Homo sapiens: one gene and its partner. The protein of the gene in region 1 interacts with the protein of each later gene in a pairwise test. Each region holds a gene or a part of one and is shown on either strand. Other genes may lie near its edges.

The links. Proteins that work in one complex are often made in the same cells at the same time.
Region 2: the proteins of PRRX1 (region 1) and CINP interact in binary tests that used the Homo sapiens proteins (3 or more experiments, as listed by UniProt).

What each region holds. Positions count from the first base shown.
Region 1 is NC_000001.11:170,716,045-170,719,699, reverse strand, and holds part of PRRX1 (paired mesoderm homeobox protein 1), read right to left. Parts: intron 1-3,655. UniProt on the Homo sapiens protein: Master transcription factor of stromal fibroblasts for myofibroblastic lineage progression. Orchestrates the functional drift of fibroblasts into myofibroblastic phenotype via TGF-beta signaling by remodeling a super-enhancer landscape.
Region 2 is NC_000014.9:102,347,682-102,350,391, forward strand, and holds the end of CINP (cyclin-dependent kinase 2-interacting protein), read right to left. Parts: intron 2,368-2,710; coding exon 2,238-2,367; intron 1,079-2,237; coding exon 876-1,078; 3' UTR 601-875; downstream 1-600. UniProt on the Homo sapiens protein: Component of the DNA replication complex, which interacts with two kinases, CDK2 and CDC7, thereby providing a functional and physical link between CDK2 and CDC7 during firing of the origins of replication.

The DNA of each region.
Region 1 (3,655 bases):
AAGCCAAATTCACTGTAGGAGTCCCAGTTAAGACTTTTTTATGGTATATCTATAGTGAGATCTTGCTTCATTTGCTCACATCTTTATCAAAGTCCTATAGCCAAATGCCACTTTGCATGTGCAAATGTGGCCATTAGCGCTCTCAAGTTCATATGTCAAGAATCCCAGCAACTCTAATGCTTGGCTGTTGCCTCTAAATCTGGGACAAGATCTGAACTGTCAGAGAGACATTACTTGCATGATCCTTGATGCCTGTTTGTCAAGGAAAATCTTACCCCTGCCCATGTTCTTTGGACTTCTCTAGAGATAAAGGAAGAAGAGTAAATGGTTTTGTACCTTATTTGTCTTTGACAATATTATGCTCACTCATATAGTTTAATAATCAAGTAGACCAATTATCTCCTGGTTCCTTCTCTCCTAACATATATACATGAACAAATACATAGAGTTATAGAGAGGAAACTATGTTCAAACCACATTACAGGGATTTGTTTTACCATGAACTCTCCTTGAAGCAGCAAGTAATTTCTAACACCATTCACTCAAGGCTCCATGCTGTTGCAAAGGCAGGCTTCAGAGGCCTCAGCCTAGATCAGGACTAGTGCTACAATGCCATCAACCCAAGCTAACATTAGCCTGGGGCTCACTCCCTGAGAACCCAAGAACAGGAAACAGTTCAGAAAGATCCCTGAAAATGTTTCACTCAAACTTGAGTTCTAGGACCCTGAGATCTTAGGGACCTTTGAAGAATCACAACTCCATTTTTACCTGTCAAGATCCTTCCTTGGTTTTCTCTGAGTTCCCCTGAAGGTAGCGTGGTGAGATAATTGTCCAGGTTGTCCATAGCAGTCAGAGTGTAGTATGCTCCTCTCCTGCTGCCCCCACCCAGCCCAGTCAGGAGTGATGTATATGTGAAACTGAATGGAATACCAGCTGTGCTGACACCTCAATCAAACTATCACCCTAAGGCCTGAGCTCTGCAGAGCCTGTGTAGGTCCCAGAGATTTGCAACACCATGCTGCCAAAACCCAAGTCACATGCTCCATCTAATGAACTTGACTTACATTCCCCATAGCTTTTCCCCAAAGAGGCTCAGCCCAAAGAAAATTATGAAGTGTTGGAGTGAGGATGGGGAGAACAAGGAGAGCTTGGCCATTCACTATTTAGAAAGTACTTTTGGCTCTCTCTTCTAATATGCAAATTCTCCTGATTCTCTCTGATTATAAACACACAATGTACTCAGCAAAACTATTAGCACAAGTCATGATGACACCTACCTCAGCTATAATATTGTTTTTATTACAAATTGAGGGAATGATCTAGATTTGTGTACAGAGTCAAAATGTAGCTTAAATCCAGAGGCCTGACAACTGAGGCCTCTAAGTCTTTTGCTAAGAGAATCCTTCTTCATCAATGCTTCCTTACCAGGAATACCCTTGAAGCTTAGAATAGAGACTGCACATTTCTTCTTGATAATTAAAGCACCCAGATATAGTAAATGCTTGCTGAGTTTGTTTTCAGGGAAAACGTGAAACTCCTCTTGTCCTTAGAAGACTGTTTCTGTAGAAAAAAATGTCAGATGATCTCAACCAGATTCCTCCAGCCAAGAAGCTACCATACCTTTCTCTCTGCTTCATGGTTTTGTACAGTCCACCTTCTCTTTGGTATTTTACACTTGTGGTGCCTTACCTCAGGGCCCAGCTTTGGTGGCACTTCTGTGACACTCAGTAAGAATGTAAGATCAGCTGCATCTTGGAAATGGAGCAAATTTAATAATAATTTTTGAGATCTACCAATGCCTAAAATATTCCAACCAACATCACTGATTATACCACTAGCTATTAGCAAAATTAGTTTGCAATAAGATCAGCACTAGAATTCAAACACCTAGGATTAAATACCTTTCAGTAGTTACATTGCACTTGCATTCTCCTTCCTATTTAATATTTGGAAGCATTCCTCCCATTCCTATTCATTTTTCCAAATCATTTTGTCTCGTACTTCAGGTCTTTCTAAGTAATACAAGCCCTTGTGATAGCACAATTATCTGAATTTCATGCCCCCAAAACAGAAGTCTGCAAAAAAAAAAAAGAAAAATCCTTAGCTTCTGTACTTTGTTTTAACTGAGACCAATTAGACACTAAGCCATTATTTTTAATCATATAGAGAAAATCCCCTATTAAGCCAATCCCATGACTTGTTTTCTTCTCTCAAAGAAAATTCTTTCTTAGGTGCAACCACAAATTATAAATCTTTTATGTTGTTTCAAAAGCCTATTTCTTCTTGTACTGCCAACTGCAATCAAGACCAAGAATATTTTATGTTTTGTTCTTAGTATTACAACCTGCTACATAATCTCAGTAGTTCTTTGAAATATTCCACTGTTCAATCAAATTCCACTGACTGTCTACCATAAACCACCAACTCCCCTGATGTGGGAGTAAGGGAAATGGAGAATTATAGTTTATGACAGGGAATAAATAGCTATGATGACCTGAAGCAATTCCAGCAAAAGTTTCCCAGTGAATGTTCTTGTTGTTTTTAACAAATGAAAACACTAGTTCAGATCATGTTGAAGGTGAGAAAAGACACAAATAACAGGGATCCAGGGAGTCTGGCTCTGGCAAATGTCCTTCAGAGTGCAAGTATAATAGAAAGAGACGATGAGCGGGCAACAGAGACAGCTCGAGCAGCAGTCCTGGGGATGGTCTGTCTTTGCTCACTAATCACAAAATGTGAGCTCCCTGTTTTTCCCCAAGAATGCAGAACAGGACCCAGCACAGTATCTTCAGCAGTACAAAAGGAAACATAAACACTGTAGAGGTTTACAAATGCAGGGTATCTGAAGGACCTGTGATAAACACATTTATCAGATTCTTGGCTCTGGTTGAATACAGGGGAGAGAAAGCAGTGTATTTTTACTAATTCCAAGAGGGTCATCTTTTCTTGCAAAAACAACTACAGTGAAAGTTGATTTTGAAACATGCTGTCTGAAGATACTGACATCCAACTGGATATTAGAATGCATCTCATTCTTTGGCATTCTAAAATGGGAAGGATTCACCAAGTTGTAGAATAACCAGCGGAAACATGAATACATTTTTTTTTTTTTTTTTGAGATGGAGTCTCGCTCTGTCGCCCAGGCTGGAGTGCAGTGGCGCGATCTTGGCTCACCGCAACCTCCGCCTCCTGGGTTCACACCATTCTCCTGCCTCAGCCTCCCGAGTAGCTGGGACTACAGGCACCTGCCACCACGCCCAGCTAATTTTTTGTATTTTTAGTAGAAACGAGGTTTCACCGTGTTAGCCGGGATGGTCTCGATCTCCTGACCTCGTGATCCACCTGCCTCGGCCTCCCAAAGTGCTGGGATTACAGGCGTGAGCCACTGCTCCTGGCCTACATGGATACATTTTTTATCAAAGTTGCAATGTTTCAAATCCAAAGTGTTTATGGATTTTATAATTTTTTTGATGATTGAGTAAACTGAAAATATGTAGTTATTGTTGCTCTTAGTAAAAACAAGCAAAACAGCCTTATAAATAGGTGTAGTCTTGCTGGGATCATGAGTCATAAAATATTGGCATCTAATGAAACCCATGAAATTGTCGAATTCAACCATCTTATTTTACAGATGAGTTAAATTAGATCTAGAAGA
Region 2 (2,710 bases), on another chromosome or scaffold:
ATTCTAACCTAGTATGTTAACTCTGGAAATGGCTGCAAACATTGTGAAACTCGAGGATTTGTGTCAGAAGAATGCCAGGGAAGGCAGTTTACATCGCTTGCCATGTCCCCAGTATGCAAACAGCGGCAATTTTTTTGTAGGTTATTTTCATTTTCATGATGTCAAACTTCATTTTAACTCCATGGGATCTTATTATTTAAGACGAAGTCTCACTCTGTCGCCCAGGCTGGAGTGCAATGGCTCACAGCAGCCTCTGCCTCCCGGTTCAAGCCATTCTCCTGCCTCAGCCTCTCAAGTAGCTGAGATTGCAGGCACGCGCCACCACGCCAGCTGATTTTTGTATTTTTAGTAGAGACAGGGTTTCATCATGTTGGTCAGGCTGGACTTGAATTCCGAACCTAAAGTGATCCGCCCACCTCGGCCTCCCAAAGTGCTGGGATTACAGGCATGAGCCACCGCACCTGGCCCAAAAACTAATATAGTCTCATAAAAACTTCAACAATCAGATAGGCATAAAGTAAAAATATTAAACCAGGGATTTTCTACACAAACATAATGTATAAAGCATGCCTAATTTATAGAAACTAGATCACTCACTCATTCTGCTCAGAAACTCATTGATTTTACTCTGAAGCACCCACGAATGACAGATTCCCAGGAGGGGCAGAGAAGGCTGAGCAGCACCACGTGGGGCTGGCCGCGGGTTGTGGGCATGAGCACGCCTGGAGAGGCCATGGGGCTGGTGACAAGCTCTGGCCAGAAGACCCCAAGGTCTGATCCTGGGGTCTGATCCAGGCCTGCGGCACTGGGTCCTAGGCAGACTGTCTGCCTGGTGAGACGTGGAAGGAGCCAGTGTCCGCAGCCGTCTCAGGACGTCAGAGAGCTCGGTGGCCTGTCTCCAGCAGCATGCTCTCCAGATGCAGCCTGCTGTCGCTCTCCACATAGGGCTGGTGCAGCCACATGGACAGGTAGCTCAGGGTGAGGTCGGGATCCCCGGTGTGGGCAAGCTCCTTGGCCACCGTGCGCTTCAGGAGCAGCTCCTTCCTGTACATCTCCAAGAGCTTATGCGAAACCTCATCTGAAAGAAACGTGAATCTCCCTTAATGGCAGTGATTCAAGAACATAGTGTCGACTTGGGAAGAACTACATTTTAACAGCTCTTGATTAAAAACCAGAATCAGCAACAGCACTGAGGGGAAGAAGGGCCCGATGGAGTTTACTACTCTAGCTGGTGCAGATTAGTACAATTTGATAACATGGTCAGCAGAGTGAAATAAAAAGTGTATACAAGCCGGGCGTGGTGGCCCACACCTGTAATCCCAGCACTTTGGGAGGCCCAAGTGGGTGGATCACCTGAGTTCAGGAGTTTGAGAACAGCCTAGCCATCGTGGCGAAAACCTGTCTCTACTAAAAAATACAAAAACTAGCCAGGTGTGGTGGCACGCACCTGTAATCTCAGCTACTTGGGAGGCTGAGGCACGAGAATCGCTTGTGCCTGGGAGGCGGAGGCTGTAGTGAGCCAAGATTGCACCACTACACTCCAGCAGGCGTGACAGAGCGAGACTCTGTCTCAAAAAAAGTATATATAACCTTTTCTACTTGACTCTTAGGTGACCTACAGTGATTATCAGTAGGAGATTCCCCTCAAACTGACAATATTTCACTAAACACATTCCACTAGGTGATTTTACCCTTTCCTGCCTTATTTAAAAAGTCTCAGGTCAACATCAAATAGCTTACCCTTGTCTTGAACTAATAAAAGCTAAAAGTAACCCTTTAAGAAGCGCCTCATAGAGTTTACTGAAGCCATGGGTTTCATTTTTCCCAGTCATCTTCCATGAGGTTGGCTGCAGTGACCCTCAATTTGTTTTTTAATTAAAACAAAAAACAAAAGAAAAACCTCAACAAACCAAAAAAACTCCTTTCTTCCTTTCCCCCCCTCAAAATGAGAGATATCTGCTTCCACAGAGGAGGTGGAATTCACTCTGCCCATTGGTTTTAGAGGCCTAATAACAGCAGCTTGCTTCACGGGTCTCTATGTTTCATATACTCTGCTGATAACCAGGTAATTAAAGCCAAGAAGAAATGTTTAAGATGCCTCTGTCTCCTTTCCTCCCGATACTTTTGCATTGAATTTGAAAGCCTTGTCAGCTTCTTAAAGTACCAGATGTAAACGATACTAAATGCCCTTAATAACCTTTACCCTCCTGAAAATCAACTGAGAAGGAACTACTTACAGAAATGGGTTGTAGGCCACGTGTGGAACAGAGGGGGTCGTTTACTCTCCTCCCCATAATGGTAGTTTTCTAGTTCACAAATTCCCTTGGTAGTTGAAGACAGCTTTTCCATTTTCACCTGTATTTTGGTCTGAAAGATATCCATTTGGAATATGATAATATTATTTGAAATCTCCAGTCTCAGATTTAATAACTCTAAGATTTCAAAGCTAAGAAGTGTAAGTCTATTATGATAAAAATTCCAATAACTAAACACTGTTAACTCTACGTACAGCAAATTCCCAGGGAGATGAAGGTGGACAGTTGCTATGATTTCATTAATTTGAATGACTTTGGTAATAAACCCCAGATTTCCAGTCCTAGAGCAAGAAAGGTTTCCGAGTGCCATTTCACTAGGATTTCCAAACAGCATTAATGTCTTAGACCCAAAGACCTGGAGGAATCCCAAGGCAGGCTCTTGCTGCCTTTTTTTT